Regions from separate parts of the Homo sapiens genome. Here region 2 is linked to region 1. Evidence: fine-mapped expression QTL. A gene starts in region 1. The other region holds a variant in brackets. All regions are shown on one strand. Distances are between the middles of the regions.

Region 1 (16,132 bases):
AGGAAGACAAGTAAATATATAATGAATTAGACAGTGACAAATGCCACAGAGAAGTAACATCTTACCCAGAAATGCTCACTCAGAAAAGGCCTCCTGAAGCCTGTGTTGAGTCATAAAGGAAGTCCAGGGGTTACCAGTAGCAGGGGGCAGGCAGAGAGTGTGGAGAGGGAGGAAAAGGCAACCCAGGCAAAAAGAGAAGCTTGCGCAAAGTGACAAAGATAGAGCACATGGTCTACTAGAGGCAGATTTCAGCAAGAATGGAGGTGGTTTGCAGATTAGATAAGAAACAGTGGGAGATGAGATTGTAGAGGAGGCAAGGGTCAGATCACAAGAAGCAGGAAAGATTCCTGCTGAAGGGGAGGATTTAGGATGACAGATACTTAAACTTGCTTAAACACCGGGGAAAGACTGTGTTAAAGATCAGTTGGTTATAGGTATGTTGCTTTATTTCTGGGTTCTGTGTTCTGTTCCATTGGTCTATGTGTCTATTTTTGTACCAGTAACCCATACAAAACCTGCTGTTTTGGTTATTATAGCCTCGTAGTATAATTTAACGTCAGGCAATGTAATTTGTTCTTTGCATAGGATTGTTCTTTGCATAGGATTGTTCTTTGCATAGGATTGCTTTGGCTATTCAGGTTCTCTTTTGGTTCCATATAAACTTTAGCATTGTTTTTTCTAATTCTGTGAAAAATGATATTGCTAATTTGATAGGGATTGTGTTAAATCTGTAGATTGCTTTGGGCCGCATGGTCATTTTAATGATGTTGATTCTTCCAATCCTTTAGCATGGGATGTCTTTCCATTTGTCTGTGTTATCTACGATTTCTTTCATCAGTGTTTTGTAGTTCTCCTCATAGAGATCTTTCATTTCCTTGGTTAAATGTGTGTGTGTGTGTGTGTGTGTGTGTGTGTGTGTGTGTGTGTCTGGCTATTGTAAATGGGATGGGGAAAGGACTCCCTATTCAATGAATGGTGCTGGGAAAACTGGCTGACCATGTGCAAAAGAATAAACTGGACCCCTAGTTCTCACCATATACAAAAATTAATTCAACATGGATTAAAGACTGAAATTTAAGACATGAAACTGTAAAAATTCTAGACGAAAACCTAGGAAAAACTCTTCTGGATATTGGCCTAGGCAAATAATTTATGATGAAGTCCCCAAAAGCAAATGGAACAAAAACAAAAATAGACAAATGGGACTTAATTAAACTAAAAAGTTCTGCACAGCAAAAGAAATAATCAACAAAGTATACAGACAACCTACAGAAAGGGAGAAAATATTTGCAAATTATGCCTTTGACAGAAGACTAATATCCAGAATCTATGAGGAACTCAAACAATTCAACAAGAAAAAAAACAACCCCATTAAAAACTGGGCAAAGGACATGAACAGACATTTCTGAAAAGAAGAAATACATGCTGCCAATAAACGCATGAAAAATGATCAACATCAATAAGCATCAGAGAAATGCAAATTAAAACCACAGTGAGACATCATGCTACACCAATCAGAATAGCTATTATTAAAAAAACAACAGATGCTGGCATAGATGCAGAGAACAGGGAACACTTATACTCTGTGGGTGGAAATGTAAATTAGTTCAACCTCTATGGAAAACAGTATGAAGATTTCTTAAATAACTAAAAAGAGAACTACCATTCAACCCAGCAATCCCACTACAGGGTATCCTCCCAAAGGAAAATAAATCATTATGTTAAAAAGACACCTGTACTCATATGTTCATCATAGCACTATTCACAATAGCAAAGTCATAGAACCAACTTCAGAGTAACAACCATCAACACTTGACTGGATAAAGAAAATGTGGTATATATACACCATGGAATACTACACAGCCATACAAAATAATAAAGTCATATCTTTTGCAGCAACATGAGTGGAGCTGGAGGCCATTATCCTTAGTGAACTAACTTAGAAACAGAAAACCAAATACCACAAAACACACTTTCTCACTTATAAATCTAAGCTAAACAAGAGGTACACATGGATATGAAGATGAAAATAATAGACACTGGGGATTCCAAAAGAGGGGAGGGGGTGAGGGTTAAAAAATTACCCATCGGGTACAATGTTCACTACTTGGGTGATGGGTACACTAGAAGCCCAATCTCCACCAATATGCAATATACCCATGTAACAAACATGCACATGTACTCCCTGAATCTAAAATAAAATAAAATTTAAAAACAAACAAAAATCTTGGGAAATAATAAATAACTAGGAAAGGTTATCAATAAAGTAGAAGGAGCAGATAATTGGTAGATCAAGGTCCTGAAAAGGTGGGAATCCAAAAACACTATATGTGACTTTCCTAAATCCAGGTGGACCTTGCTGTATGTACGAAATGTGATCTCAAAGTATTGTGACTGGATTAAATAATGTATAAGCCCTCCTGTAGGCTTATATGAGTTGATTCCTCTAATCAAGGTTTTCATTGAGGAAATCCCCTTGATATCTACTAGGAACCTATGATAACTCGGAGAAATAAGGAATGCTTTGGTAATATAAATAAGTTAATTGTTAACATGTCTGCTCTGGTTAAGGTTTTATAATGTTGTATTTTCAAGAGTAAAGAACAAGGCTATGGCCTTCCTCTGCCCCTCTAAAACCAACTTATGAAAGTCAGTCAATCTTGAGGATGGACTCCCCTACCCCTAGAAGGCTCATTCTAGCAGTTTTGTGGGAAGTGGACAAGACTGGGGTGAGGGGCCAGTTGGAGGGATGATTCTCTTTCTAATAGTCCATGGAAAAAACTAAAGAGGTGGTGAGAAAAGCAGTGGTGAGAATGGAAAGAAAGGGAAGAAACCATTCTGATATGGACTCAGCTTCCTGTCCTCTGACCCATACAAAACCTGCTGTTTTGGTTACTATAGCCTTGTAGTATAATTTGACGTCAGGCAATGTGATGCCTCTGGATTTGTTCTTTGCATAGGATTGCTTTGGCTATTCAGGTTCTCTTTTGGTTCCATGTGAACTTTAGCATTGTTTTTTCTTTTTTTAGCATTGTTTTTTCCAATACTGTGAAAAACGATGTTGCTAATTTGATAGGGATTGTGTTAAATCTGTGCCTGAATGCACACATGTGTACACACATATTTGTGTGCTGTCCTGAAGGCGTGTGTCTCTAGCGACTGGCTAGCTACTGACCCAAGCCATTTCTTCTTCCTCCTAGGCATACAGCTATATTAATTCCCAGCCTCCCTTGCAGTTAGGTGTGTCCCTATGACTGAGTAGAATGTGAGAGGAAGTGACGAATGCCATGTGTAGGCTTGATTCATAAAGATGTACCATTTCTCCCTGCTCTTTCCCCTTTCATGGAGGCTGGTGGAGCCCTGTGTTGAAGATAGTGACACCACAAGTTGGGAAGAGCCTTGGTCCCTGAATCACTGAATCACTGCCTTGAATCACCGCCTGGAATACCTGTTGATCAGGAACACTTACCTGGAACTTCACTGAGCAGGATACAAACTTCTATTGTATTAAGCTATTAATACATTAAGATTTGGGGGTGCTACCTTACATAATAAATTCCCATTTCCTCTTGGCTTTGATCCACAGGTTCTCAAGTAGCCAGAGTAGGATAAGTCAACACCCTTTTCAGCACCAACAATATCCTGAGCCTTAGACTACTATCCAGGCTCTGGGTGACCAGAGATCTGCTTCTCTCCCTGGAGAGTGTTTGTGGAGGAGCAACTCTGAGGAGTTGCTAAAGGATGATATCAGACACATTTTATATGGCAGAGCCTTAGTCTCCCAGACCTACATAGAGTACATATATTACAGACTCATCTGAAGTTGGTGAAGAGCCGGATTTAAGGCAAGGCAGGGTCTCCTGGTTTTCTCCATTCATGGTGGCTTGAGTGTGAAGTGCCAGGAAGCCCTAGTGGAAAGATGGCCCACTGACCTGGGGGCAGGAGACCTGACCCTGGGCCACATGGCCCTGGGAAAGTCTTCCCTTCTCTGCACCTCCATTTCTTCAACTGGAAACTAAGAAACTGGAACTACATCATTGCTCAAGCCCCTTTCATCTCTGACATTCTAGAGGCTTTATCAGGGATTATGAATGCAAATGTTTACAGGGGCTGAGCAATAAGTGGGCCAGGTGGGGCCTGGGGCTAATTAGAAAACTGGTGCCCCATCTCAAGGAGACAGATGACTATTGCCACGTGGGAATGTATACCCAGGTTGCCAGCACTTCTGGTGTCTCAAAAGAAGCCAGAAATCTAGATCTTTTTAACATCAAATATTCTGATTTTTGAATATTTCCAATACATTTTTAAAATGTATAAGCACTCAACAGACTAAGTAAGGCACACCCATGGACCAGACTCATTTCTAGAGCTGCTAGTTTAAGACCTCTAAATAAAGAATCCCATGGCTGGGGCCCCTTGGGCAAGAGCTAAGCCAGGCTCCAGGCCACTGGCCAGCTACTAAGTTTTCAGAAAGCTGGTGGGGTTTTCAGCAGAGATCCGTGATGCTCTGAAATCCTACCAGAGGATATCAAAATATGTGCACAACTCTCTCTGAAGCTGCAGTTTCTGTGTTTCCCCTGGGTGTCTCCCAGGGGGTTCTTAACTGACCCAGAGACCTGAGCCTCTCTCCACTTCTCACCTTCCTCAACCCTGCCCCTCTCTCCCATTGCCACCCCTGGCTCACTGGCAGCAGAGTGAAGACAGGGCCGAGAAGCATTTCATAAGGAAGAAAATCAGTGGTGAGACCCATGGGTACCAATTTTCAAACTGCAGTATGAGAAGGAGGGGGAGTCTGCCTGGAGAGTGGGTACCACAGGTCACACATTTGGCTCCTGTTCACCTGACAGTCAACTAGCTGGGGTGCAGAGGAACAAGCTCTAGAGTGCAAATGAGCTCCTGGTCCAGTCTGCCCAAGTCCAACAGGAGTGCCCCCCTGGCGCCATCTTCATCCTCATTAAAAACCATCTCATTCCATAGGATGCATGTGAGGCATCGAGAATTAGGAGGTTCCGCTGATGCCAGCACTCTGCTTCCTGGCTGGGGTGTGAAGGAGGAGTGAGGATCATGAGTCACAGACAGCCAGGTCAGGCCTAAGGATAAAACACCAGCCACAAGACCTCCCTTCTTCTCAGCCTGTACCAGTGCTCAAGCCTGACCCAGTTGTCTACTCATCATTAATTCCATGCCTCAAAGATCAAACCTCCAAACACCCTGCTTGAATAACGCTACTTGGATGCATTTAAAAATCTCTTAGAGACCAAACCCCACCACTTGGAGAAGCCCCTCCCAGCCAGGCACTTCCCAGTTGTCCTTGGCCATCTGGACTATTTCCCAGGGCAGACCCTGCTCCCAGTGACACACATTCACAGAGGTTTGCTGCTCAGAAAATGGGCTCATTGCAGCTCTCCAAATGAGGTCAGTGTATCACTCAGGAGGCTCCATCCCTCCTCTGAGTTCCTTACAGACACCTCTCCCCTAATGCTAACTCCTAAACAGAAATTAGGGAACAGAAAAGACCCAGTTTCCACCCATGAATTTCTTCCCTCTCCCTCACCCCTCCCTCTCTGTCCCTCTCCCCACCCCCTTCCTCTCCCTCTCTCCTTCTCTCAATACAGCTTCTCCTAGAGCTGAGGAGTTCCTATTGAGAATCCTAACAGAATAATCATGGGAACTTAAAGCGATGTTTTCCCTCTCCCAACAAGTTTATCCTGGTAATCTCAACTCAATTCTAACAGTAAAAACAGCCTTGGGAGAATGACTCACCCCACAACCCAGAATACGTGCAGGTCCTGTGCCCTGGCAGAGCTAAGGCTTCCTGCCTCAGTTCTGCCATCAGAGTCCACCCAAGGCCAAATTGTGAAGTGAGGAATGTTTGTCCTCAGCTCCCCATCACTCCGGGACTTTCCTCTGTCCCTCTGCCCTCAAACCAACCCAGCCAGGCCAAGCAGGGGGCCTGAGTCCCCACACTCCAGCCCTTCATGACTTCCTTTGCATCCCTCTCTCCACCAAAGCTTCACATCAAGACCTGGAGGGCCCTCCTCTCTATCAGGTGACACAATAGGCTAATTGGATGCAGGAAAAAAAAGCACTGGCCAAAGAGGCAGAAGACTCAAGTTCTTATCCCATCCCTGCCACCTTTTAGCCATATTTTCCTGAATAAGTCTCAGCACTTCAGTTCCATCATCTGTAAAATGGGATAATGATGCCTTCTTTGGCTCCTTCACAGGGACCAGGCAAGTTTCTGAACCTTAGTTGTCTCATCTGTTAATTGGGCATAATAACACCATCCTTACCCACTTCATAGGGCTGCTCTGAGGCTTGAAAGAGATCACTTATGCGATAGTGCTTTGTACACAGGAAAGCGCAATATTTTCAGAGGCGTTATGAGCAGAGCCCCTCCCAGGGGAGAGTCACACATGTCTCATAGCAGCCTCCTGGAAACGCTGTCTTGACATAGAGATAGAAGCCTGCTGGTTGGAATCTGTGGGCCATGGCAGACATCCTGGGACAGATGGGCCTGTTGGAATCTGTCAGATCACATCGCAGAGGCAGCTGCCTTCTCTGCCCACGCTGCTGGCCCAGCCATGCCCATGTAGCTGAAGTTCCCCTTTTCTGTCCAACACAGCAGCCTCTGCTGCAGTCTGGCAGCCCTATCTGGAAGGTAACCAACTCCTTGGTTTCTCCCTTTGTTCTTCCTGCTGTCCTCCATGTCTTTGGTGCTTTGTGAGTACTCTGCATTCCTCTACTCTAGAAACCAAGCTCCCAGGGTCTGCCCAGGGCTTGCCCTCACACCAAGTCCTGAGGGGCAACTCTCCGCCTAGCTAACCTTGTGCCTTGTCAGAATGCCAAGCAATGCCAAGCAACAGCACCTTGTTCTGTGGTGGAAACTTGAGTGGAATAACAACAGCCACACTTGGTATTAATGTCACACTGCTCACCAGGATGCCCAGAAGCACTGCATTGAATCATTCACAGGCCTCTGCTCTCCCCCAGTGTATGCCAGCTGGATTGGAAATGGGGAGACACCACAAAGGAAGTCAACATCAGAACTGGGGAGACCCTGATGTCCTGAGTTTCGCTCCAAAAATTCAAAGGCAAAAACTTTCCGCTCTGCTGCTGACATGCTGTGTGGAGTAGCAAATTAGTCCTTTCGTTTTCCACACATCACCTTTATCATGTATAAAGTGGGAACATAAAGAGCCCAATCTCCCTCCTGAAATGAGGGGGGAAAGGGCAATCCCTAGGGGTAGAGGGGGGAATCCTCGACCTCAAGCATTATACCAAGATTCTGCCCTTAGCTAACAGGCCCCGTGGTTCAGCCTTCAAGTGCTTGAAGGTGACACACCTATCAGTGCACCTTGAAGAAGGCAGAAACTCCCATCAGATGGAGGGGAAATCTGGACACCCTGGGACAAAAAAAAAAAAAAAACTCGAATGGGGTAAAAAAGCAAGAAGGGTGATATGCAAAAGTGGAGACCAACCATTTGGGTTCTCAGCCTGAGGATGTCTTTGTCCCCTCCCTCCCGCAAAGGAAATGCGGATGTAGAGGTAAGTCTGTCATCCCTTAGCCAAGCTTTTGGGTTCAGAAGCTGACTGCATAGCAACAGCGGACAGCCGCCTTCCCTCCCCTCACACACGCACACACACGCGTCTCCAACCCTCTAGGAAAGCGGTTTCAGGACTTGTGAAGTCCAGGGAAGGGGAAACCCCAGCCTGGGGCCCTGAAGCAACCCTGGCGCTAATGCCAACAAGTGTCGCGGACAGCTTGGGGGCTCAGGTGGGGCGAGGGGAAGATTGACACGCAAGGGGGAGATGAGCCCTCACTAAGCCCCTACCTCCTCCCTCCAGACCTGACCTGGGGAATCACCCCATCCCACCCCCAACTCCCGCCTCCCACTCCTGCCCAGCCCACCCCTAGGGCATTTGGTCCCGCGGCAATCGGGCACTGCCTGCGGGTGGGGCGCTCGCCCCTACCTCGGTGGCCATGATCCGGGGGCGCTCGGAGGCTGTCGCGGGGCCGGGCGAGGGGGGTCTCCGCGGTGCTGACCCCGGGAGCAGGTGGGCGGCGGCGGTGGCGGCGAGCTGGGGCCCGGGGCGCTGTCCGCAGTGCTGATGCGGGCGCCGCGGGCCCGGGCTCAGGTGGGCCGGGGGCGGGCGGGCGGCTGGGTCCAGGCAAGGGGCGCGGCGCTGTCCGCTGTGCTGAGGCAGGCGCCGGGCCCGGGAGGCGAGGCCGCGCCCGAGGCTCCTCACGGCCCGATCGCCCGCTGCCGCGGCTCCTGCAGGCAACGGCCGGGTTTAGCTTTGGCGGCGGCGGCGGCGGGGATGGGGGCGGCCGGGGGAGGAGGGGCCAGGAGCCGCCGCTGGCCGGGAGGGGGAAGCCGCGGCCCCCAGACTCCGGCGCCGCCGGAGAGGAGCCCCGCCCGGGCCACAGGCTCGGCTACCGCCCCGCGCGAGGCCCCGCCTCCCCTTCCTGCCCTCCCCCTCGTGAGAGCCCCGGAGCTCTGCGCTCGCTTCCGTGGCCCCCGGGACATCCAGCCTGAAGGACAGTGGGGCAGGAATTTTTCCGGGGCAAGACGCTTCAGCCTGCAAGGCTGACCGCTCCCGAGCCGCTCGCAGGCCCGCAGGTGAGGCCTCTCTACCTTTCCAGCCACCCCCAGTGCCCCGGCTCTACCCCTCCCTCGCCCCGCCCCCAGCTTCCTCTTTAGAATAATTTCTTTTCTTTCTCTCCCTTTTCCTCTCTGTGTGCCCCCCCCCCATATACACACAGTCAGGCTTGCACGGACGGCCCCTCTTTTCCCCTCTCCTTTGCACTTCCTGGAACCCCACTAGCTAGACAAAGATCCTGCCGACCGCAGAGAATCATTTCCTTTCTTTAAATACGTGCCCACATTTCGTTCTCAGCCATAGCCTGGGGTCCCTTCTTTCAGGCAGCTCCAGAATTGAAGCCAGTCTCTCCTTGCTGCTCTTCCTGGACCTGGTCCCCACCCTTTACTCTTCCCTCTCTCCTCTGCAACCCGAGTTTACATACACGCACCACCACTACCACCACCACTCAAAAACCACAAGCAGATGGTGCCAAACCGGTATGCTCACTCTCCAAGGATGGCAGGTCTGGCTCTGGTGCCACCTTCGCACTTTTGACATCATAAATTCCAACTAAATGATCTATTTGTTTAATAAAAAGGAGACCAGGTGCAGTGGCTCACACCTGTAATCCCAACACTTTGGGAGGCTGAGGTGGGAGGATTGCTTGAGCCCAGGAGTTCAAGACCAGCCTGGGCAAGACCCTGTCTGCACAAAAAATGAAAACATTAGCCGGGCGTTGTGATGTGTGCCTGTGGTCCCAGCTACTCAGAAGGCTAAGGCAGGAGAATCACTTGAATCCAAGAGTTCAAGGCTGCAGCTAGCCATGATTGTGCCACTGTACTCCAGCCTGGGCAATAGAGCAAGAGCCTGTCTCTTAAAAAAATAAAAATAAGGCCGGAAGCAGTGGCTCATACCTGTAATCCCAGCACTTTGGGAGGCCGAGACGGGTGGATCACCTGAGGGCAGAAGTTCAAGACCAGCCTGGCCAACATGCTGAAACCCCATCTCCACCAAAAATACAAAAAAAAATTAGCCAGGCATGGTGGCACCCGCCTGTAGTCCCAGGTACTCAGGAGGCTGAAGCAGGAGAATTGCTTGAACCCGGGAGGCAAAGGTTACAGTGAACTGAGATCACACCATTGCACTCCAGCCTGGGCGACAAGAGCGAAACTCTGTCTCAAAAAATAAATAAATAAATAAATAAATAAAATAGACATAAAAAAAAGGAAACACCAACACAAGTGCCTTTTTACATACCCATAATACCCCTTGGTCTCTTTGAGGGGTGGTGGGGTGTGCTCCTCTGCAGCTCACTGCTGCCTGAGAGTCTGAAGCCCACACACAGGGAGAACCTGGCGGCCAAGAGACCTGGCCCAGGCTTTTCCAGCTGTATAACCTCGAGCAACTGTCTTGTTTTCTGAGCTTATGGTTCTCTTTCTGTAAAATGTGAGTGTTGGATTTCACTAGACTGTTTCTAGGACCTTTTGTTTTTTCTCCAACCTTTTATTTTGACATTTTTAAACATACCAAAATGTTGAAAGAATAGTACAATAAACTATGCCATCTACCTAGCTCCAACAATTGCTTTTTGCCACATTTGCTTTATTGATAGATATGAAAACAGAGCTATATTTGCCTAGATTATCAGAAGGTGACAGATATCGTGGCCGGGCGCGGTGGCTCACGCCTGTAATCCCAGTACTTTGGGAGGCCGAGGTGGGCGGATCATGAGGTCAGGAGATTGAGACCATCCTGGCTAATACGGTGAAACCCCGTCTCCACTAAAAAATACAGAAAAATTAGCCGGGCGTGGTGGTGGGCACCTGGGGAGCTACTCCCCAGCTACTGGGGAGGCTGAGGCAGGAGAATGGCATGAACCCAGGAGGCAGAGCTTGCAGTGAGCCGAGATTGCGCCACTGCACTCCAGCCTGGGTGACAGAGCGAGACTCCGTCTCAAAAATAATAATAATAATAATAATAATAAGGTGACAGACATCGTGAGGTTTTATCTGTAAGTACTTCAATGAGATTTTATCTGTAAGTACTTCAATTCACCATGCATCTCCCAAGAAGAAAAGCGTTATCCCAACTAGGCACAACACCATTCTCATGCTTTATTTTATTTTATTTTATTGAGATAGGGTCTTGCTCTATCACCCAGGCTGGAATGCAGTGGCACCATCTCAGCTCACTACAACCTCTGCCTCCTGGGTTCAAGTGATTTTCAGCCTCCCAAGTAGCTGGGATTACAGGCACGCACCACCATACCCAGCTAATTTTTGTATTTTAAGTAGAGACAGGGTTTCACCATGTTGGCCAGGCTGGTCTCAAACTCCTGAGCTCAGGTGATCCGCCCACCTCAGTCTCCCAAAATGCCAGGATTACAGGCATGAGCCACCGCACCCAGCCAATTATCATGCTTTTAAAATGCCCATATTATCTAATATTCTAGAACAGTTTGTCACCCCTAAAACACATTAATAGCGATGACCCCTCAAAAATTTTCCCAGAACTTTTCATTTTTAGTAGCTAACATTTAGTGAGCACTTACCATGTGCCAGCCCATATGCTACACACTTTACATGTATGATCTTACGTAATCCTCACAATTACTCTTTGAGTTGTGTTCTTGTGATCTTTTTATTATTCCCACTTTATAAATGAGGGAACTGAGTAAGTTGCCCAAGGTCATAGGGTTTGTGGGGAATGGAGACAGGATTCAGACATGGGCAGTCAAGCTCCAGAGCCTGTGTGGTTGATCCTCCTAACTGTATTGCCTCCCTCCAGCATCTGGTAGACCATAGACTAGCAGAGCAATGACCACATCTCCAGCTGCCTATTTTGCAGATGAAAACGCTGAGTCCCAGAGTGTAAGTGACATGCTAAAGAAGTTAAAGGCGGGTGTCTCATTCTACCTTATAGTTTGGCATAGGATTTGGCATAAAGGACCAAACAGAATATCTATGAATCCTGCAGTGGTCACTGGTAATAAAAGAACACATAATCTGATGATCTCCATGTAAATTTCACAGTTCCTCCCACTTGATTTTTATCACATCAATTAGACAACCTTCTGGAAACCATTCTCTTCACCTGATGACTAGATATCTGGATGAGGCCATTCAACAAATCCATTCATCAACATCTATTTGTTGAACACCTACTGTGTATCAGGCACTCTTCTAGGAAATTGGGATACAGTCGTGACTAAAAATGCAAAGCCTCTGTCCTTATTGAACTTATATAGTAATGGGGGTAACAATCCATGACATAAGCAAATATGTGTAAAATATGTCAAGTTTTGATCACTGCTAGGAAGAAAAGTGTGATCACTGCTAGGAAGAAGATATGGTAAGGAGATAGTGATAGAGAGGGCTTATTTTCGAAAGAATAGTCAGGGAATACTTTTTTTGATAAGGTGAAATTTGGGTAGAGCCCTGAAGGAAGAGAGAGAACTAGACATATAGATACCTGGAGGAAGAGTGACAAGGCAGAGAGGACAGAATCCAAGGGCCCTGACGCAGGACTGGGCTTGGTATGTTCAAAGAATAGCAGGAGGCTGGGCGCAGTGGCTCACACCTATATCCCAGCACTTTGGGAGTCCAAGGCAGGTGGATCACTTGAGGACAGGAGTTCAAGAACAGACTGGCCAACATGGCAAAAGCCCATCTCTACTAAAAATACAAAAATTAGCCAGGTATGGTGGTGGCTGCCTGTAATCCCAGCTACTTGGGAGGGTGAAGCTGGAAAATCACTTGAACCTGGTAGGCGGAGGTTGCAGTGAGCCGAGATTACACCACTGCACTCCATCCTGGGTGACAGTGTGAGACTCCGTCCCCAAAAATAATAATAATAAAAACAAAGAATAGCTGGAAGACCAGTGTAGCTAGACCTGAGGTGAACAAGGGGAAGAGAGTTGGGAGTTGAGCTCAGAGAGGTAGCAGGAATCAGGTCTTCCAGGGTTTTGTAGGCCCTGATAAAGACTTCAGATTCTACTCATAAAGTAAGATGGCAAGCCTAAGAAGGTTTAGCGTAGGGGTGTGACATCATCTAATTGCAGTTTTTGAAAGATTCCACTGGATGTCAGAGGGGAGGCAAGGCTAGAAGCTGCAAAACCAATTAGGAGACTGTTAGAGCAGCCCAGGCTTAGAAGATGTGGTGGTGGCTTAGAATTTGGTAGTAGCAGTAGAGGTGGGAAAAAGTGGCTAGATTCTAGATATAATTTGAAAGTAATGCTGAGAGGATCTTCTGATGGATTGGATGTGTGGTATAAAGAAGGCAGGCCGGGCATGGTGGCTCATGTCTGTAATCCCAGCACTTCGGGAGGCCAAGGCAGGTGGATCACTTGAGATGAGATCAGGTGTTCAAGACCAGCCTGACCAACATGGCAAAACCCTGACTCTACTAAAAATACAAAAATTAGCCAGGCATGGTGGCACACACCTGTAGACCCAGCTACTCAGGAGACTGAGGGAGGAGAATCACTTGAACCCAGGACGTGGAGGTTGCAGTGAGCCGAGATTGTGCCACTACACTCCAGCCTGGACAGAGAAAGACTCTGTCTCAAAATAAATAAATAAATAAGAGATCGTCAAAGATGAGTCTAAGTCTTGAGATCTGAGCCATCAGAAGAAAGGAGTGGCCATCTACTGAGAGGGGAAGACTAGGGACTGAGCAGGCCTGAAGGGATAGAGAACACAGCATTTTGGTTGTGTTTTGTTCACTTAGGTTTGAAGTTTGATGTGCATGTTATAAGCAAATTATAAGGGAGGATGAGGAGTTGGAGATATAACTTCAGGACCCTTCAGTATGTGGATAGCATTTAAAACCATGGGACTAGAGACATCATCGAGCGAGTAGGCATAGCTAGAAAAGCTGTCCAAGAACTGATTCAGGACACTTGGTCACTGACAGGCTGGAAGACAAAAGACTGAGAAGAGGGGCCAGTGAAGTAGGAGGAGATTCAAGAGAGGGCGGTGTCCTGGAGCCAAGCAAAGAAGGCTGGAAAGAGAGCCTTGCCTGCCATGTTGAATGCTGCTCACAGGTGGAATAAGATGAGGACTGAGGAATGACTACTGGACTTGGCAGCAAGAAGGTTCGCCAGTGACCTTGACAAGAGCCATTTTAGTGGTGCAGGGATAAGATCCTGATTAAAGTGGGTTTGAGAGTTAGCATGGAGGAGAGAGAGGAGAGGTACTGAGAGTGTAGACAATTCTTTCTCCTGCAAAGGGAAGCAAAGACTAGCATGGGGGTCTGAGAGAGACATGGAAGCAAGGGAGTTTCCTTTCAAGAGGGAAGACATTAGGGCATGTTTGTCTGCTGACAGGAATCATCTAGTAGAGAGGGAAACACTGATGATTCAGAAAAGAGAGGGTTAATTGCAGGAGCAAGCCCTTAACAGGCCAGCAGAGAATGGGACACAGGGCAAACAGAGAGGGGATGGCTCAGGAGAGGAGCACAGACAATTTCCCACAGAGGCGAAAGAAACACAGTGGACTGGATTAAGAAAATGTGGCACATATACACCATGGAATACTATGCAGCCATAAAAAATGATGAGTTCATGTCCTTTGTAGGGACATGGATGAAATTGGAAATTATCATTCTCAGTAAACTATCACAAGAACAAAAAACCAAACACCGCATATTCTCACTCATAGGTGGGAATTGAACAATGAGAACACATGAACACAGGAAGGGGAACATCACACTCTGGGGATTGTTGTGGGGTGGGGGGAGGGGGGAGGGATAGCATTGGGAGATATACCTAATGCTAGATGACGAGTTAGTGGGTACAGCGCACCAGCATGTCACATGTATACATATGTCACTAACCTGCACATTGTGCACATGTACCCTAAAACTTAAAGTATAACAATAAAAAAAAACACAGTAAATGGCCACAGATGGGAGCTGGTTAGGAGGTTTTGTCACATAAAGAAAAACCTGAGCTCCACTCCTGCTCCCCTTCAACTAGCCAACGGCTTTTCACACATCATTCAACCATTACCTCTAGAAAGCTTGGTCCATCATTCAGCCAGTACCTATAGAAAGCTTGCTCCGTGCCAAGCATGGAGCTGGCACTTAGCCCAGAGAGAGTTCTCCCCATTGACGTCACAGGACTAGAGTCTATAGAGAGCTTTGAGATCACTCATGCAAGGACAAATGATCCCTTTTAATATCTAGCTCCTCTGGTGGGAAAGAGGCTTTCACAGCCTCACCCTATTTCCCCTACATTGCCTCCAGGGTTGTAACAATCTCAACAGACCTCAAGTCTTAGAGGCCTCAAAGTGGAAGCCACAGAGAGAGACCCACATTCAGAGTGGGCAGCATTCCATGTTGGGCTGACTCAAGGCTGTGATGAGATGCTAGAGGATGGGATGTTCCCAAATGCAGTCATCTGGACTTTAACTCCTATATTTGAGGCAGAGAGCTCTTTGAGATTTAATCTGACTAATCATTATTATCCAGCTGCCTTGGGACAACCTAGTCCTATGCAAGAGCCTAGCTCTTTGATGTTTTTTATCATAAATTAATGAGTTCACCCACAAAATAACATCAAAGAAGATCCACTAACATTCAGTGTTATCATCCTCCAATCTGCGGCTGCATTGGAAAGCCTCCCCATAAAGGACCACAGCCGGAAAAAGAAACCAACTGAAAGATTTGGAAATCATAATAGCTGGAAAGAGATGAGAGAAAAACGAACTCTTGCAGACGGCAGAGAAGCCAGGGAAAGAGCTAGCAAACCTCAGGGAGATGAAGAAAAAGCAGGGGAGACGAGGAAATTCTCAGCACTTGGGTCTGGATGGAAAACAATTGCATGAATGCTTGAGGGGGAAATTGTGGTCTGGAAAGCCTTAAACAATGTCATCTCATGGCACATTGCGGAGACTACTAGGAAGTATGTGGTAGGAAACGGCATCCCTGGAGTCAGATGACATAGGTTTCAACCTCTGGCTCTCCTATTTACTATGTAATCATTAGCAAGTCTCAATCTCTCTGAGCCTCTGATTTCTGATCTGTAAAATGGTGGCAATAATTCTCCCTTCCCAGATAGAATTCATCCAAATATTAGAGGCTTTCTTTTTTTTTTATGGTTATGAAAACAAATTTATTGTTAAAATTACTATTTTTAAAATTCTGTTCTACTGTGAGTTTTAACATTTCTGTTCCCATTAAAACATTTTTTTAAAAAAAGTTAGTTTTAGATTGCAATTTGGCTTAATTTTATTTTATTTATTTATTTTTTTTTTTAATTGATCATTCTTGGGTGTTTCTCGCAGAGGGGGATTTGGCAGGGTCATAGGACAATAGTAGAGGGAAGGTCAGCAGATAAACAACTGAACAAAGGTCTCTGGTTTTCCTAGGCAGAGTGTTTGTGTCCCTGGGTACTTGAGATTAGGGAGTGGTGATGACTCTTAACGAGCATGCTGCCTTCAAGCATCTGTTAAACAAAGCACATCTTGCACCGCCCTTAATCCATTTAACCCTGAGTGGACACAGCACATGTTTCAGAGAGCACAGGGTTGGGGGTAAGGTCATA
Region 2 (16,132 bases), 30 kb after region 1:
CTGGACTGCTTTGGGAACTGGGGAAATTCCTCCGGAATGAGATGGCACACAGGCTGCCAGCCATCCTCCCGCGATGCTCACTGAGCTTCTGGCAGGGAGGGAGCCCAGAGCCAGCAGAGGGGCTGCATTTTGAAATCAGTGGGATGACTGCAGGTGGGAGAGGCTGTCAGCAGGAATCCTGCAGCTCCGGGGCTCCTGTGGAAGAGACGGGAGGGATGCAGGAAACGCCTTTCCTAAGAAGCACAGCAAGCTTAGAGGATCCTGGTCATGGCCCAGCCACACCAGCGGGGGGGGCTGGCCCAACCTATCCTCCAGAGATCATATAAAAAATAATAACATATTGCTGAGCACCAATTCTGAGCTAGACGCTGGAGATACCGTGGGGCAAAAGACAGGCAAAGGGCCCTGCTCTCATTATGTTCTAACGGGAGTAACAAGCAATGCAACACAAATACATAATAAACTAGAAGGTGATCAACACTTAGAAGGGATATAGAAGAGGGAGGAAAGATGGGGAGGGGGGGCAGGGTGCTGGCAAGGGCCAGGGGGCAGTTTGCAATTTTAGGCAGCACAACCAAAGACCTCACTAAAGAGGTGACGTGGCTGGGCATGGTAGCTCACGCCTGTAATCCCAACATTTCTGGGGGACAAGGCAGGAGGATTGCTTGAGCCCAGGAGTTTGAAACCAGCCTAGGCAACATGGTGAGACTCTATGTCTACAAAAAATTTTAAAAGACTAGCTGGGCATGGTGGCGCATACCTGTGGTCCCAGCTACTCAAGAAGCCAACCCAGGAGGATTGCTTGAACCCAGGAGGTTGAGGCTACAGTGAGCCATTATTGCACCATTGCACTCCAGCCTGGGTGACAGAACAGGACCTTGTCTGAAAAAAAAAAAAGTGACATGTGATTGAAGACCTGAAGGAGGCTAGATAGGGCAAGCCATACGGACACCTGGGGAGGAGCATTCCAGGTGCAGGAGCAGCAAGTGCAAAGGCCCTGAGGCAGGAGTACTCTGGCAAGTTCCAGGCATGGTGAAGAGGCCAGCAGCTAGAGCAGAGTGACAGGAAGGGAGCAGCATGGGAACACAGGGAGTATGCTAAGGGGCAAATCAAGTCAGGCAGGGCCTGAAGACTGTCACAAGGATTGTGGCTTTTCCCTTGCATGAAAGGGGAGTCCCTGGAGGCTTGTAAGCAAAGGAAGGATATTATCTGCCATATGTCTTAACAGAACTACTCTTGCTACTGTGTTGAGAACAGATGAAAGAAAACTGGGAAACCCAGTTATTATTATCACCATCACCATCACCATCACCATCACCATCACCAACTATAGCAGCAACAGCCAGTTACTGCCCCTGCACCAGGCTCACTGCCACCCACTTCACTGTTACTGTCTAGTTTACATCTCACAACAACCTGTACAGACAGACGGCCTTATTTCTCCCATTTTATAGCTGAGGAAACTGAGGCTTGGCCAAAGTCAGAAGGTCACACAGATACACGCCCTCCATAATCCAGCCCACGCTCTGGCTCCTCTGCCCAGCCTCGTCTCCCACACCTCCCTTCTCACCTGCACCCAGCCTCCCACCCCAGGGAGCTACTCCCAGTTTCCCCAACTCCACGCATCCTTCCAGGCCTCTGATTTTTTTCATATGCTGTTCCAGCTGCCTAGAACTCTTTTCTCCCATACCTAACTGGCATGTGAATTTCAACCCATCTTTTGAGAGACAACTCAAACTTTGCCCCTTTGGGGGACCCCTCCCTGATTGCCTCCAGCACAGCAGCTCATGGCCACCTCCCCAGAAATATGAGGCATTGCAACTACTGCGCAGCTGGCCTCCCACATACCATGTGAGCGCATGGCCGGGGGCTGGAGCTCATCAACCTCAGTTTCCCCAGCAATCAGTTTTGCAACCTGACAGGTCTCAGGCTCAAATCCTGCTGACACTCTGTTGGCCTAGGTGATTTTAAATTTCTCTGTTGCAATTTAATTCTGAGTCACACTTCCTTCATGCATGTCCATTTCTGTGCACGTACCCCTGACCTTGGACAGATACACGCAGAGCCTTGAGCTGATGGGTGCCATTGAGCTTCAGAAGAACGATGCTTGTAACAGAGGAGGAGGTGCACGATGCAGAGGGAGCCCTGTGCATTTTAGAATCAGCCAGACCTGAGTTCACATCCCGTTCTGCCTCTCACTGGCTGTGTGGCCATGAGCAAATCATTTAACATGGGCCTTCCTATCTTTGTCTATAAATGAGGCAAGTGATATCCACTCCCATGAGTTTTGTGAAATCTGGAAATTGTACAAATGCAATGCCTGGCCCTGAATGTGCCCTCAAGATGTGGCATTAATGTCTCCTTGCCTGTCCCGTCCCTAACCCCAGGAGTATCCTATACATTACACTTGTCCACCGTGCTCTTGGGAGGCCTCATGGGCCTCAAGGGCTAGTGTACTAAGCCAGAATCCCCCACTTCTGGCCCCAGTCCTCTCTCTGAGGCAGGGCCTATAGTTTCCTGGCAGTTTCCCCTGCCCTGGGACCTGGAACCCTGCCCCTGGCCGGCCCCACTGCCTGGAAGGTCCACGTGCTCACTCCTTCCCGCCCACCAACTGCCCTGCCTCCATTGCTACCAGGCCTTCCTGCCTGATTAGCCAGGACAGCCACACTTCCAGCAGACAGTGGGAAACAAGTAACTAAGGAGGGGAGATGCCACAGCAAGGAACAGGTCAGAACAACATTTGATGCCAGTCACTAGGCAAACACCCCAGATCCTGGTCACTCAAGGTATTGTAACATGCCAGGTCAGGGAGGATTTGAAGGTGCAACGCCCTCACTTTACAAATGAGAGGCCCAGAGGGGGTAAGACACTAGCTCAAAGTCACACAGCGAGACAGGAGGAGGCTTTGGACTTGCCCCTGGCCGCACTCTTCCTACTGCACCAGGCTCCCCCTCATCAGGGGCCACGTTTGTTTTTTGTTTTTTGTTTCTTTTTTCTCCAGATGGACTCTGGCTCTGTCACGCAGGCTGGAATGCAGTGGCACAATCTCGGCTCACTGCAACCTCCGCCTCTTGGGTTCAAGCAATTCTCGTTCCTCAGCCACCCATGTAGCTGGGATTACGAGTGTGCACCACCACACCTGCTAATTTTTGTATTTTTAGTAGAGATGGGGTTTTGCCATGTTGGCCAGGCTGGTCTTGAACTCCTGGCCTCAAGCAATCCTCCAGCCTCGGCCTCCCAAAGTGTTGGGATTACAGGCGTGAGCCACCGCACCCAGCCAGAGACTACTGTTGAACTGGACTGACCGCAGGAGCAAAGCAGCTTGTTGAAGGCCCTGTAGCTCTGTTTCCCTTGAAAGATATCAAAACCCTTTCAGCATCTTAATCCCCAAAGGCATGACACCTGACATCAGTCTCTTGAGTGGCCTGCAGGGAAGCCATTGTCCAAGCTGTGTGCAGCCACCAAATCCACTGACTAAGCTCTGAATCCGCAGTCTCCTGAGGTTGCCGTTTGTTCTCTGTCTATGGACTGCTACTACATGTGCAGCTGCACTGTGCTTGAAACCTCAACAGCGTATCTCAGGGGTGGGTAAGGGAGGCTGGGATAAATGGAGCCCCAGCCTCTGAAGGCCTGACGTGGAGGTTGTGCAGCTCATCCCTGGGGAGTCCTATCTAGTGGGGGCTCGGGGGGCGACTCGGGGATCTGTACCATAAGCAAACTCCTCCAGGGATTCTGATGTGCTGCCATGTTGGGGACCACCAGCCTAATCCAGCCCTTCCCTCATGGAGTCCCCTCCTCCACACCCTCACAGAAGACCACTCATCGGGGGACTGGGAGCTCATCACCTCACAGGTGGCAGTGCCCCAGCAGTGAGTACACAGGCTGTGCCACGCTGAAATCTGCGTCCAGAATCCTCGTCTGCCCTCTGTGGCTGACCAGTCAAATGTCTCTTCTTCCTCAGGAACAAAATCAGACCCTATTGCAGCCCTGTGTCCAACCGCTGGCCGCCCAGATACTGTTCCTGCCCGGGGGGCTCCTGGTGTCCCCTTAGGCCTGACAAGGGAGAGACTCTCCGTGTCCAGCACGCAGGCTCCATTTGCGGGTAACTGCTCCTCCTCCTGCCCCACCCACACACGCCCATCTGTGCCAGACACCGCCGAGCACCAGGACACAGTGTCCTCCCCAGCCTGAGACCAGAGCAGGCCTGATCAGGAACACGCAGGACCCTGCCTTCTCTGCCCAGTGGCCTCTTGCTCCTGGTGCCATCGTGTCTACTTGAGATATTTCCAAATAGAGAATATAGAAACAATGAGCATTCCTCCCAAGAAACCGGGCTTGAAATCAGAACACCTGGGTCCTCCCAGGGCCCCCATCACTTCCAGCTATGGGACCTTGAGCGAGTCCCAGGGCCCATCTGGTGAATGGGGCTGCTGAGGGAAATTCAGACAAGCATCAGAGCCCACCGTGCCCTTCCCTCTCGGTGTCAGGTGTTTTCTGCCTTTGCCTGAGCCGTGGCCACACTCCCTTGCTAATCCTTCAGACGACTGACACGTATACAGCTGTTGCCCTGGCCTGAGACCCTGATGTGGCCTGACCGGCATGGGCCCCTACCCAATGCACTAACTAGCAGCAAATGAGCCTTATTAAAAAATATTTGAGGCCGGGCATGGTGGCTCATGCCTGTAATCCCAGCACTTTGGGAGGCCGAGGTGGGTACATCACTTGAGGTCAGGAATTCGAGACCTGCATGGCCAACGTGGCAAAGCCCTATTTTTACTAAAACAAAAAAAAAATACAAAAATTAGCCAGACGTGGTGGCGTGCGACTGTAATGCCAGCTACTTGAGAGGCTGAGGCAGGAGAATCACTTGAACCCGGGAGGCAGAGGTGGCAGTGAGCTGAGATCGTGCCACTGCACTCCAGCCTGGGCAACAGAGCAAGACTCTGTCTCAAGAAAAAAAGAAAAGAAAAAAGGCCAGGTGCAGTGGCTCTCACCTATTTATAATCCCAGCACTTTGGGAGGCTGAGGAGGGAGAATTTCTTGAAGCCAGGAGTTTGAGACCAGCCTAGGCAACACAGGGAGACCACATCTCTACAAAAACTTTTAAAATTAGACGGCTGTAATGGTGTGCGCCTGTAGTCCCAGCTACTCAGGGGGCTGGGATGAAAGGATTGCTTGAGCCTGGGAGGTTGAGGCTGCAGTGAGCCAAGATCGCACCACTGCACTGCAGCCTTGGCAACAGAGCAAGACTATCTCTAAATAAAAAAAATTTTTTTTTAATAATTGCATAGAGCTGCCTAGCACAGTGCAGGGACATGAGGGTTCAGTAAATATTTGTGGTATCTAATTTAGGAACACCAACCTGTACCCACCAAGGAGAATAAAAAATATACCTTAGTACTCACCTAGTTCAACCTTTTCATTTTACCAATGAGGGTTCCCAGAGAAGGGAAGTGACTCATCCCAGGTTTCCCAGCAACTTTAGTCCATAGTGGCTCAGTTTGCCCAGCCAGAAATCCCCAATGCTCCCATCGAAGGTTGTGGCGCTGACAACATCACAGCTGAGAGGAGGACTCCATGGTGCCCAGAACCCCCGCAGCGCCATTCACCAGAGGTGGACAACACTCCCTCCCGGCATCCCCCTGGGCCTGGCTTCTGACCAGAACCCTGCCCTGGACATCTCAAAAGCCCTCAGGACCTCGGTGCTGCCACCTGCTCACAGAGTGTGGCGGGTACGGGGGTGGACAGCCCACGTCCCTCTGCCAGGTTATTTATAAAGTGTTTTCAGATGAGTCAGGCACGGAGCTGCCCAGCACCACCAGGGACTACCCCCTAGAAATGCTAGAATGATCCTGAGCTCTGGAACCCCACCCCACCCCTTCATAGCCTGCTTCTCATGGAAAGCTAGAGGCAGGAAGGTGAGGCCAGGGCTCTGGGGCTGTTGTGATGCCCCCCGTGAGCCCGGGCAGGCCAGGCTTGGGAGACAGATGGGGAGGCCCCAGGAAGGAGAAGAAGGGCCTCGGACAGGCCCCCTCCGGGCCACAGACCACATGCCCCTTCCCCTTCCCCCTCCCAAACAAGAATGACGGGACAAGCCCAAGAAGACAACCCCCACCCTGTGCCCCAGGCGCTGGCTGCTCGCACCTCCATTCCTGTGTGTACTGCTCTCCGCCTCCGCCAGGAGCCCAGCTATTTCTATCTCTATGGAAAGGGAGCCCAAGCCTCCAAGCCTCCTGCCCCCCTTTCCTGCTCCTGGCAGTGCTCTAATTAACTCCTCAGCTGGATGCCGCCTGCCATGGGTACTCTGGCCAGGGCTGCCATGAATAACTGCACCTGCGCTCACACCCAGCTTCCCACAGAGGCTGGGCCCAGTGCCCCTGCAGAGAGTGTGACCACTGGGAGCCTGGTCCTGGGGGCCTGGACTCCCCCGGCTATGCACTCTCCTTTGGGAGCCTGAGCTGAGGGCATATGGGGGTCTTTGGGACCCACCCTCTCCTCTGCAGCCTCCACCACAACCCTGCAGGGGCTACTTGCTGGTTCAGCAATCCTGCTGTGTGCCTGGCATGGGGCTCAGACCTGAGCAGGGAAGGAGTCGGGAGGGCAAGGAGATGAATAAGCCTGTCCTCCCTCAAGGGAGGCAAACACATAAACAACTCATTATGCAATGAGAAGGAATGAAGTTAGTGCTAAATTAAGGTACAAGCTGGGCACCAAGACTGCAGGCCCTCAATTCTTCCCCACTTTTTTTTCTTATTATAAAAGCAATTCATACTCATTTTACAAAGAATTTATATATGCAGATAACAAAAAGAAAATTATAATACATTCTTTATCCATCCACTCAAGGACAACTTTGTCCATACCTGTGGCCCAGACTTCCAAACTTTTTTTAACAGAGCAAGGACAGGTCACAGATCTGAGGGTCTCTCCTCCAGGGACCACCCGCCTGGCTCTGGGACAGTCTTTCCAACTTGAAATTCACAAGAAATG[C/T]ATAGAAAGATTTCAAAGCAAATAATATGGATAGTATGACAAGTTCATGTAAAAAGAAAAATCCCAAAACTCTATCAATGCCTGGAAAATGTCTGGAAAGATACTTACTAAAGGGTCAACATTTATCAGCTAGGGGGAAAGTGATGGAGGAGCAGATAGACTTTTTTCTGCTAGAAATGTCTTTGAATTGTTACAATAAGCATGGATTTATATAAACTTTATGATTTTTTAAAATGAAAACTTTTTTAAAAAAATTGCTCAAGGCATAATTTCCAAATTTTCTATGGCGTTGTCTTATCTTTGCACTTAGAATAATATAATATGAAAACTAAAAGGAGGTACAGCCACTGTGGAGAGCAGTTTGGCAGTTTCTGCAAAAGGTAAACAGAATTTCCGTATGACCCACCAACTCCACGCATTTGGATATGCTCGAAATGACTGAAAACAGGGACTCCCCTTGTTCACAAATGTTCATCACAGCACTATCCACAGTAACCGAAAGGTAGAAACAACTCAATGTCCATCAACGGCTGAATGGATAAACAAATCGTGTTATGTACATGCAATAGAATATTACTCAGCTATTAAAAAGAAATAAAGTGCTGACACTTGCTATAACATGGATGAAACTTAAAACATTACGCCAAGGGAAGGAAGCCAGACATAAAAGGCCACAGAGTCTATGATTCCTTTGAAATGAAATGAACACAATAGGTAAATCCATAAAGGGAGAAAGCAGATGAGTGGTTACCAGAGGCTGGGGGGAGGGAGAGAATGAGGAGTGATTACTTAATGGGCACAGGGTGTTTTTCTGGAGTGACGAAAAATTTTGAAACTAGTGGTTTTGAAACTGGTGGTTGTACAACATTGGGAATATACTAAATGCCACTGAATTGTATAATTTTTATTTATTTATTTATTTATTTATTGAGACAGGGTCTCACTCTGTTGCCCAGACCAGAGTGCAGTGGGGTGATCTCGGCTCACTGCAACCTCTGCCTCCCAGGCTCAAGCCATCCTCCCATCTCAGCCTCCCACCCCCAGCTCCCACACCACCACACCCAGCTAATTCTTCTACTTTTTGTAGAGACAGGGTTTCACCACGTTGCCCAGGCTAGTTTCAAACTCCTAGACTCAAGTGATCCTCCCACCTTGGCCTCCCAAAGTGCTGGGATTAGAGGTGTGGACCACCACACCCAGACTGAATTGTACACTTTAACACGGTTCCTTGTATGTTATGTGAATTTTATCTAAAAAAAAAAAAAAAAACAAACAAACAAACAAAAAAAACCACAATGAAACATTAAAAATAATAAAAACAAAAACAAAAGCAAAAAGCTTAGTCTCACTCAACTTTCATGCCCCCCAACCCCTGACCACCTGGCCTTCGAGGGTCTTGAAGGAAAAATCTTCAACCTGCCCACTGGCAGGGCCAAGCCACTTGGCTCCCAGAAGGCCTTGGAGAGGCAGGGGCAGTCCAAGGGAGAAAAGTACCCCCAAGTAAGAGAGGGGAGAGGAGCGCAGAGGCAGGAGCTGGGCCAGGCAGACAGAAGAGGGAAAGCAGCCATCCTGCACCAGGCACCACACTCCCGAGGAACCCTCGGATATCCCTGAGAGGTCAGAACTGCTATCCCATTCTTCAGATGAGAAAACCAAGGTTCAGTGTGGCTTGGAGGCAGGGCTGGGACCTCCTGACTCCAAGGAGGAGAGGCAGGGGAACCTGGCATAGCCCCAGGTTGTTTTCTATTTGTTCCATCTATTTTTTTCCCCTTTTCTGCCTTCTTTTGGACTATTTTTGATTATTCCATTTTATCTTCTTTATTGGCTTAGCAGCTGTAACTCTGCTATTTTAGCAGTTGCTTTAGTGTTTATAGTACACATCTTGACCTTTTCACAATTTACCTTCAAGTGATGTTGTGCCACTTCACATCGAGTATAAGAACCTTACATTTACAGAATTTACTTCCATTTCTCCCCACCTGGCCCGAGTTCCCCCTCTCTGGGTTGTGGCCGAAAACACTCTCCAGGTAGTAAGCAGAGACAACCATAGAGCTCTGTGGGACCCCTGAATCTTGTAGCCTAATGTCTAGTGTCTTGAAAACCATTATTTCATATGTTCTGTCTGTTTTTTAAAAATTGTTTCAGGCAGGAGTATAAATCCAGTCCCTGCTACCCTGTCTTGGCCAGAAGCAGAAGCCCCCAACATGCATAGGAGGAAACCAGGACTCAGAGGCTAATCCCCTCACCCAAGGTGAGGGAGCCCATAAGTGGACAGGCAGGAATCCAACCAGCCCTGGTGCTCTCTTCCCTGGCCCACTGCTCCTGCATGAACCAACTGAGAATGCAGAAACCACTCTCAGTAGGAGAAAGTGAACTTTTGTCACCACAGCAAAAAGCTGCTCACAGCATTGTTACTGCTTTGGAAGCCAGTGGGACAATTCTTTTGCATAAAGTTACCCATTAAAGAGCAACTTTCAGCATCTTCCAAGCCTCACCTTAAATGCTCTCTCTTTGCATCTACAGAAGCCTCTGTGGCATATTCCCCACGGTGTTTGCTGTCTAGCAGGATGCATAGGTCTGCTGAGAATGTAGGATCAGCCCCCTATAAAAGTACTCTGTAACCTATAATATGCTGTAACAGATGGAATTGTCTCCCCACTTACCCTCCCATGAGTATTTTCTGGCTCAATCTAATCACCTAGGTGGTGGAATTGCGGTAACTCTGAGTGTGTGTATGTGTGCATACGTGTGTGTGTGTGTGTGTGTGTGTGTGTGTGTGTGTGTGAGAGAATTTGGAGGCAAGGAGGAGGCCCGTTTTTATCACACTAGTCAACTCACTTTACGTTCAGGGATCTATTTGTCTTTAAGCAGAGGGAGAGGTATTTTTCCTTAAAATCACTTGAGGCAGCTGGCTGAGGCCAGATTCCGACAGAATCTGATGGGGGACGGGGCCTAAAATAGCCTTCAGCTCCTCCCCACCCTCTATCTTGCAGGCAGAGAGGAGTCGGGGCCCAGTTCTTTCCCAAGCCCTCTCCTCCACCAGCTGACCCCAGAAATACTTTATTTAGAAAATCAATCTGAAAGCAACAGGAAGGACTTTCATTCCTACCAGCACCTTGTCACACATCAATTTCATTTAAGGCTCTACAATTCCACAGCTGTGAGGCGCAGGCAAAGTCCTTAGCCTGGCCAAGACTCAAGCTCCTCATCTGTAAACTCCCAGGACTGACCGTTAAGTGGCAAACATGATGCATGTGGCACAGATTGGGAGCTTGAATCTTAGGCTTCTTTCCGTCCTCCTCATAGTCCATTCACCTTGTTGAATGTTGACAACAGCATTCAGCTATTGGTGTTACCAGCAAAAGTGTTACCCAGGCCGGGCACGGTGGCTCACTCCTGTTATCCCAGCATTTTGGGGGGTCAAGGCGGGCAGATCACCTGAGCTCAGGAGTTCGAGACCAGCCTGGCCAACATGGTGAAAACCCGTCTCTACTAAAAATACAAAAATTAGCCAGGCGTGGTGGTGAGCACCTGTAATCCCAGCTACTCGAGAGGCTGAGGCAGGAGAAACACTTGAACCTGGGAGACGGAGGTTGCAGTGAGCCAAGACTATGCCACTGTACAATCGGAATGAGTGAGACACCATCTCAAAGAAAAAAAAAAACAGCATTACCCTTAGAAGTCTGTGTCCTGCTTGTCGGTCTGTTGCTTCCAACTAAAACAGATGGAAGGAAAACCCATAAACAACACCCTCCCTGCTCCATCCAGATCAGAGGTTTTCAAAGTTTGCTGCCCATTAGAATCCCCTGGGGAGTTTTAAAAATCCCAACACCAGCTGCACCCCAGATTCATTAAATCCAAATCTCTGGGGATGGGGTCCTGGCATCAGGAAATGTTAAAGCTTCCCGGGGGCTTCCTGTGTGCAGCTGGGGTTGAGAAGCCATGGTCTGGTGTGAGAGGTCCTGAATGCTCTGCCTGCCCCACCCTCTCCTTCACCTGCAATCCCAGCACATCCCTCGGGCTCCCTGAGTGCAGTAACCAGGATGCAGGACCAGACAAGTTTGGGAGAGTGGGACATTTAGGGAGCCCGCATTCTCAAGTTCTGGCAGGAGTGGGTGGGGAGTGGGCCCTTCACCACCCTGAGAATGAGGGCCTCCCATATTTTGCTCCCCAGGAACCTCATTATTAAGGAAATGCTCTCTTGCTGGGCCACTTCAAGAACCTGAGCATAAGCGCCTCCTTACGTACGCCCTGGCCACCACGAGGGTGCCTCCCTACCCCTGCCCCTCCTTACCTACAAAGGGCCATGATTCCAGCCCCCTGGCCAGAGCCCAGCAACTGTCAGGCCACCTGGCTGAGAGGCAAGCACACCCATCAAAGGGAAGAGGAGACAAGGTGTCCCTTACCAGCCAGCCAGCCACCATCCCATTTCTCACAGCTGGCCCACTGCCTGGGTGGCAGTTCAAAGATTCTGGAAAATGAAAAGACTTGGCAAGGCCAAGCATGACCTTTCCTCCAGGTGCAGGAGCCAGAAGGCTGGAGAAGATGATTCTCATGCCCTCAGCTTGGTGGGGGCCCCAGCTGTGCCTGGAAGCAGGGTGTCCAAAACAAGACTCCATCAGGGGACTAGAAGGAGGAGTTGGGTCCCCAGTCTTGCCCTAGAAAACACAGTTTGTGTCAGACCCATGGCCTGCTAAGCCCCGGCCTCCTTTTCTCATACTTGAGTGAGCAGGGCATCACCTGGGGACCTTCCCTCCAGGCTCTGCTGCAGTGGGGCTGCATTTTGAACCAACACCCCCAGGTGATCCTAATCCAGGTAGTCCATACTTTGAGAACCACTACCCTGGGCCTTGGTGGGATAATATCTCAGCATCTTGCTCTCCTGCCCATTCCCCCTCCCCCACACTATCATCCTCTCCAGAGAGCATCTGCCGAGAAGAGCATCACCCTCAAGAGGAAGAGCCTGAGTAGGTTTGGACAGGCACCCTCCAACCGGTGACCAAGCCTCACTGCCTCTCCTGTGAGGCCTTCACCAACTCTTCCCATCCATTCAAATTAGCAGAGATATCTACATTTCTGTAGTAGCAGAAATGTACATACCTAGGCCAGCAGGTATGAGGCCAGAGGGATGGTAGGTACTGTAGCAAACTGGAGAAAGCGTGCCGTGCCCACTCCTACCTGCTGCTGTGTAGCAGGCTGGGGTTGCCAGATCTCCTGATTTGTCAGGAGAAGTCAGGAATCTAGTTTTTATAGGCAATTTCCAGGTTTTTAAACTATGGGAGCCAAAGCCAGCACATCCAAGGTCCCAATCTGGCCTGTGGGCCACCCGTTAGCAGCCTGTCTAGGAAGTGGGCCCGCGGGATGAGAGGCCCTGCCTGTGGGCATCCTCACACAGTTGGCGTTAGCACATTGCCTGCCTGCATCCCCGGGGTCCCAGGAAATACCCCTGACATGAACAAGTGAGTGAACACATGGTGTTGGCAGGCAGGCGAAAGGGATATTTTTGTAGGGAAGGGCGACTTCCCACCATACCACACCTAAGGTCAGCCTTGTCAGCAGGGGTGGGGTCTGTCCTCCGTCATTCTCAGTAGAGGGCCAAGCTAATGCCTAATTCACCACCCCACACTTAACTGCCACTTCTAACATTGTGGGTGTTCTGTGAGCACCCCCCATTGTGCAGACCTCTCTTGGGTCTGTAGCTTTATCCACTCCTTCTCTAAAGCCCCCCAGCTTGGCCTGACTTCAGGCCACTTCTCAGAAACCTTTGCCCAGGGCACCCCATCCCCAGCCCATTCCCAGCTCCTCCAAGCCCTGCAATGCAAGAGCCAGCAAAGCCACAGAGCCGCCCCTGGGAGCAAAGGCCTGGTCTCGGTGCCCGCAGGAATATCCCAGGACACACCCTGCCAAGGGAGGTACATCTGAGGCTTCTGCCACCTCAGGAGATGACAGTAGACAGTCACCAGTGATGTGCCAGGAGGGAGGAGCCCAGCCCATCAGAAGAAGGGCTGAGAGGCTGCTTAAAACTGATCAGAAAAAGACGTGAAAGTCCTAAGGGAACAATGTAAAGCACATGGTATATAATACCCGCCCCATGTGAAGTTCAATGGCAGCTGCTGCATGTGAGCACAAGCTGGGTTGATGGGGGAAGCGGGTGGGGGCATGGGGAACCCTCTGGAGTGATGGAAACCATCCATATCCTGATTAGAGCGGTGCTTGCACTGATGTACAAATATAGAAAAAATACATCAACTGTACAGCACATGTAAAGATTGGTGGACTTGGCCGGACACAGTGGCTCATGTCTGTAATCCCAGCACTTTGGGAGGCTGAGGTGGGTGGATCATTTGAGGTCAGGAGTTTGAGACCAGCCTGGCCAACACGGTGAAACCCCATCTCTACTAAAAATACAGAAATTAGCCAGGCATGGTGGCGCATGCCTGTAATCCCTGCTACTCGGGAGGCTGAGGCAGGAGAATTTCTTGAACCTGGGAGGCGGAGGTTGCAGTGAGCTAAGATTGCACCACTGCACTTCAGCCTAGGTGACAGAGAGAGACTCCATCTGAAAAAAAAAAAAAGAATTTGTAGACTTTACTGTATGTAAATTTTACCTCAATAATAAAAGAAAAGAAAATAGCAATGGACAAAAGGAAGAGAAAAGCTCCCCACATATACCTACAAACCCAAGAAGCTGGAGACCTCCTTACCTGCTCCTTGGGGAAGTTTAAAGAGAGGCACAAAAGCCAATGAGGTATAAGAACCTTGCTCCCAAATAAGCCACGGTCCTGATTTCTAACAAAGTGAGCCAGCCAGCGGGTGGCCAAGTTCAACTGCAAATACATAACTGAAAATCTGCTCACAGTAGAAGCCTTGAAGGCAGGAGGTAACACCACATTTAGAGTCCTCCAGCCTTCTCCCATAAAGCCACAGAGCATCCTCACAGCAACCCTGAAGCAGCAAATCATGTCTCCTATTCAGAGGGACATAAATAGAGGCCCAGGGAAGTTCAAGGACTTGCCCCAGGTCACACTGTCAGTGCTAGGACTCAAACCTGGGCTCCCAAGTCTGTGCCCTTCCTTCTACCTGCAGAAGAAAGCGTGCCCCTCCTAGGCCACCCTGCATTCGAAAGCAATGCGAATGCGCGGAACTGTCTATAAAAATGGCCAATTACTAGGGATAGTCATTTTACCCAAACTTGATTTGGGGAATAATTTTGTGGTGGGGGGCTAATGATCAGCCTTTTCTTCAGAACAATCTCTGTTCGCAGAGACAGTAGTCTTTGAGATGTGCCGGGGTGAGAGCTGTCTCTATCTCAGTCATTTGTCACCTACAGACTGGCACAGAACGCAATTCTGTGAGATTTGACGAAAGAGGACATGTCTTCCCTATGACAGATTTCAAAACAAAGTACGAAGAGGGCCTCAATAGCTACAAAGAGGGTCTGACAAAGAAGGGGGCATTCTCCTGAGGCTCTTCAGGCAGGCCAGGGGTGGGCCTGAGAAGTTGAGGGTGACATGGGAAATTAGAAAGACTGGTGGGCACCGTTAGTGCCTACCCTAAAGTCACTGCCTTCTCTTTATTGCTACAGACTCTGATATTTGTTCCAGCCTCAGAAGATGAATCATGATTGGGCTAAACAAACAAAGTAATCTCATTTGCTTTTCCCTGATTCTTACTTTTCCATTTTCCCTTGCCGTCAAGATACAGTTCCAGCCAGTGAAAAATAAAGACAAATCTGAGGGAGGGCTTCTTGCTTCCTGATAAAAGAGATAGACATTTAATGGAAGAAACTGTCCCTTTCTTCTCCTTCTTGCCTTGAATGTGGTTGAGTGAGGGCACGATGGCTGAAGCTGTGGCAGCCATCTTGCCATCAAAAGGTAACAAGCTTGTCCAGGCACTGTGGCTCATGCCTGTAATCCCAGCACTTTGGGAGGCCGAGGTGGGCGGATCACCTGAGCTCAGAAGTTCAAGACCAGCCTGACCAACATTGCAAAACCCCGTCTCTACTAAAAATACAAAAATTAGCTGGGTGTGGTGGTGTACATCTGCGGTCTCAGCTACTCAGGAGGCTGAGGCAGAAGAATCGCTTGAACCTGGGAGGTGGAGGTTGCAGTGAGCAGAGATCGCCCCATTGCACTCCAGCCTGGGTAACAAGAGCGAAACTCGATCTCAAAAAAAAAAAAAAGTAACAAACTGAAGAAAAGCAAACACAGTGAGGATGACTAAGCAGAGAGATGGAAAGAGCGTGGATCCTTTCAACATTTTTTATCTGCTCATCAACTCTGGATCAGACTTCTCAGATAATTCAGTGTCATCGTGGTTTAAGCCACTGTCCATGGGGTCTTCTGTTACCTGCATCCTATCCGACTCAAAGGGCAGAGGCAGACAGATACAGGCTGCAGGATTCAAGTCACATGAATGAGAGCAGGTTGAAGAAGCAGGGGCCGGCTGGTTGAAGACCTGGAGGGTGGCAAGAGACAGAGTTCTGCAGCTTCACCAGGTCAGGGAGAGTATTCTCATCATTTCCCAGGCTATCCAGCCTGCCAACAGAAGGCTGGACATGCTACACGGGCCCACTGCTCTGGTGGTATTCCAGATGTCTCTCATCGGCGATTACCTGAAGCTGCCATACAAAGAACTGTTGCCCTTTATAGCCACAGAGTTACATGGACCTGGGTTTTTAACATACTGTAACCTTGGACAGAGGAGAAAAGCTAATCTGTGAGGCAATGTGATCTCTTTTCAATTCAGTGCAATACAAAAAAAATAGCTAGATGCTTTGCAGCTGCATCCCATGCATTAATGAATAGGGCAGCCACTCTTTGTATTCTTTCCTGATGGTAAATTATCTTAAACTTTTTATATTATAATGACTTGTTCAAGTCAGGAAGTGCTGCAAAATCCACATGAATTAAAGATCAGACACAAGGCTTTAGACACCCTTCTCACTCGTAGCTGACTTGAATGGTGTTCACACGCCTCTGTCTCCAGGGGTGCTCTCAGGCAGAAGCTGGAGAAGCACCAATCCACAGCCACCTGTGAGCCAACTTATCAGCAAGGAGGTTCCACCCTCAGAGCATCAAACTGGGGCGGGTCAAAAAGGGTAGCTCAAGATCTTCAAGACCAGGGAGCCCAAATTCATGGC

Evidence for each region.
Region 2: its variant is fine-mapped to the expression of GOLGA7B in atrial appendage (GTEx, PIP 0.94). The same link has a PIP of 0.9 or more in left ventricle.

Annotation. Positions count from the first base shown.
Region 1 is chr10:97,842,158-97,858,289 of GRCh38, reverse strand. GOLGA7B (golgin A7 family member B) reads right to left here and starts at 8,447. Exons shown (of 5, transcript NM_001010917.3): 1 at 7,975-8,447. The coding sequence starts at 7,986. It overlaps GOLGA7B-DT (GOLGA7B divergent transcript), which reads left to right and starts at 8,492. Exons shown (of 3, transcript NR_108035.1): 1 at 8,492-8,624. RefSeq lists an enhancer at 15,774-16,132.
Region 2 is chr10:97,811,962-97,828,093 of GRCh38, reverse strand. It overlaps LOC107984260 (a long non-coding RNA gene), which reads right to left and starts at 6,197. Exons shown (of 3, transcript XR_001747563.2): 1 at 5,406-6,197. The variant C/T (reference allele first, on the strand shown) is at 6,991.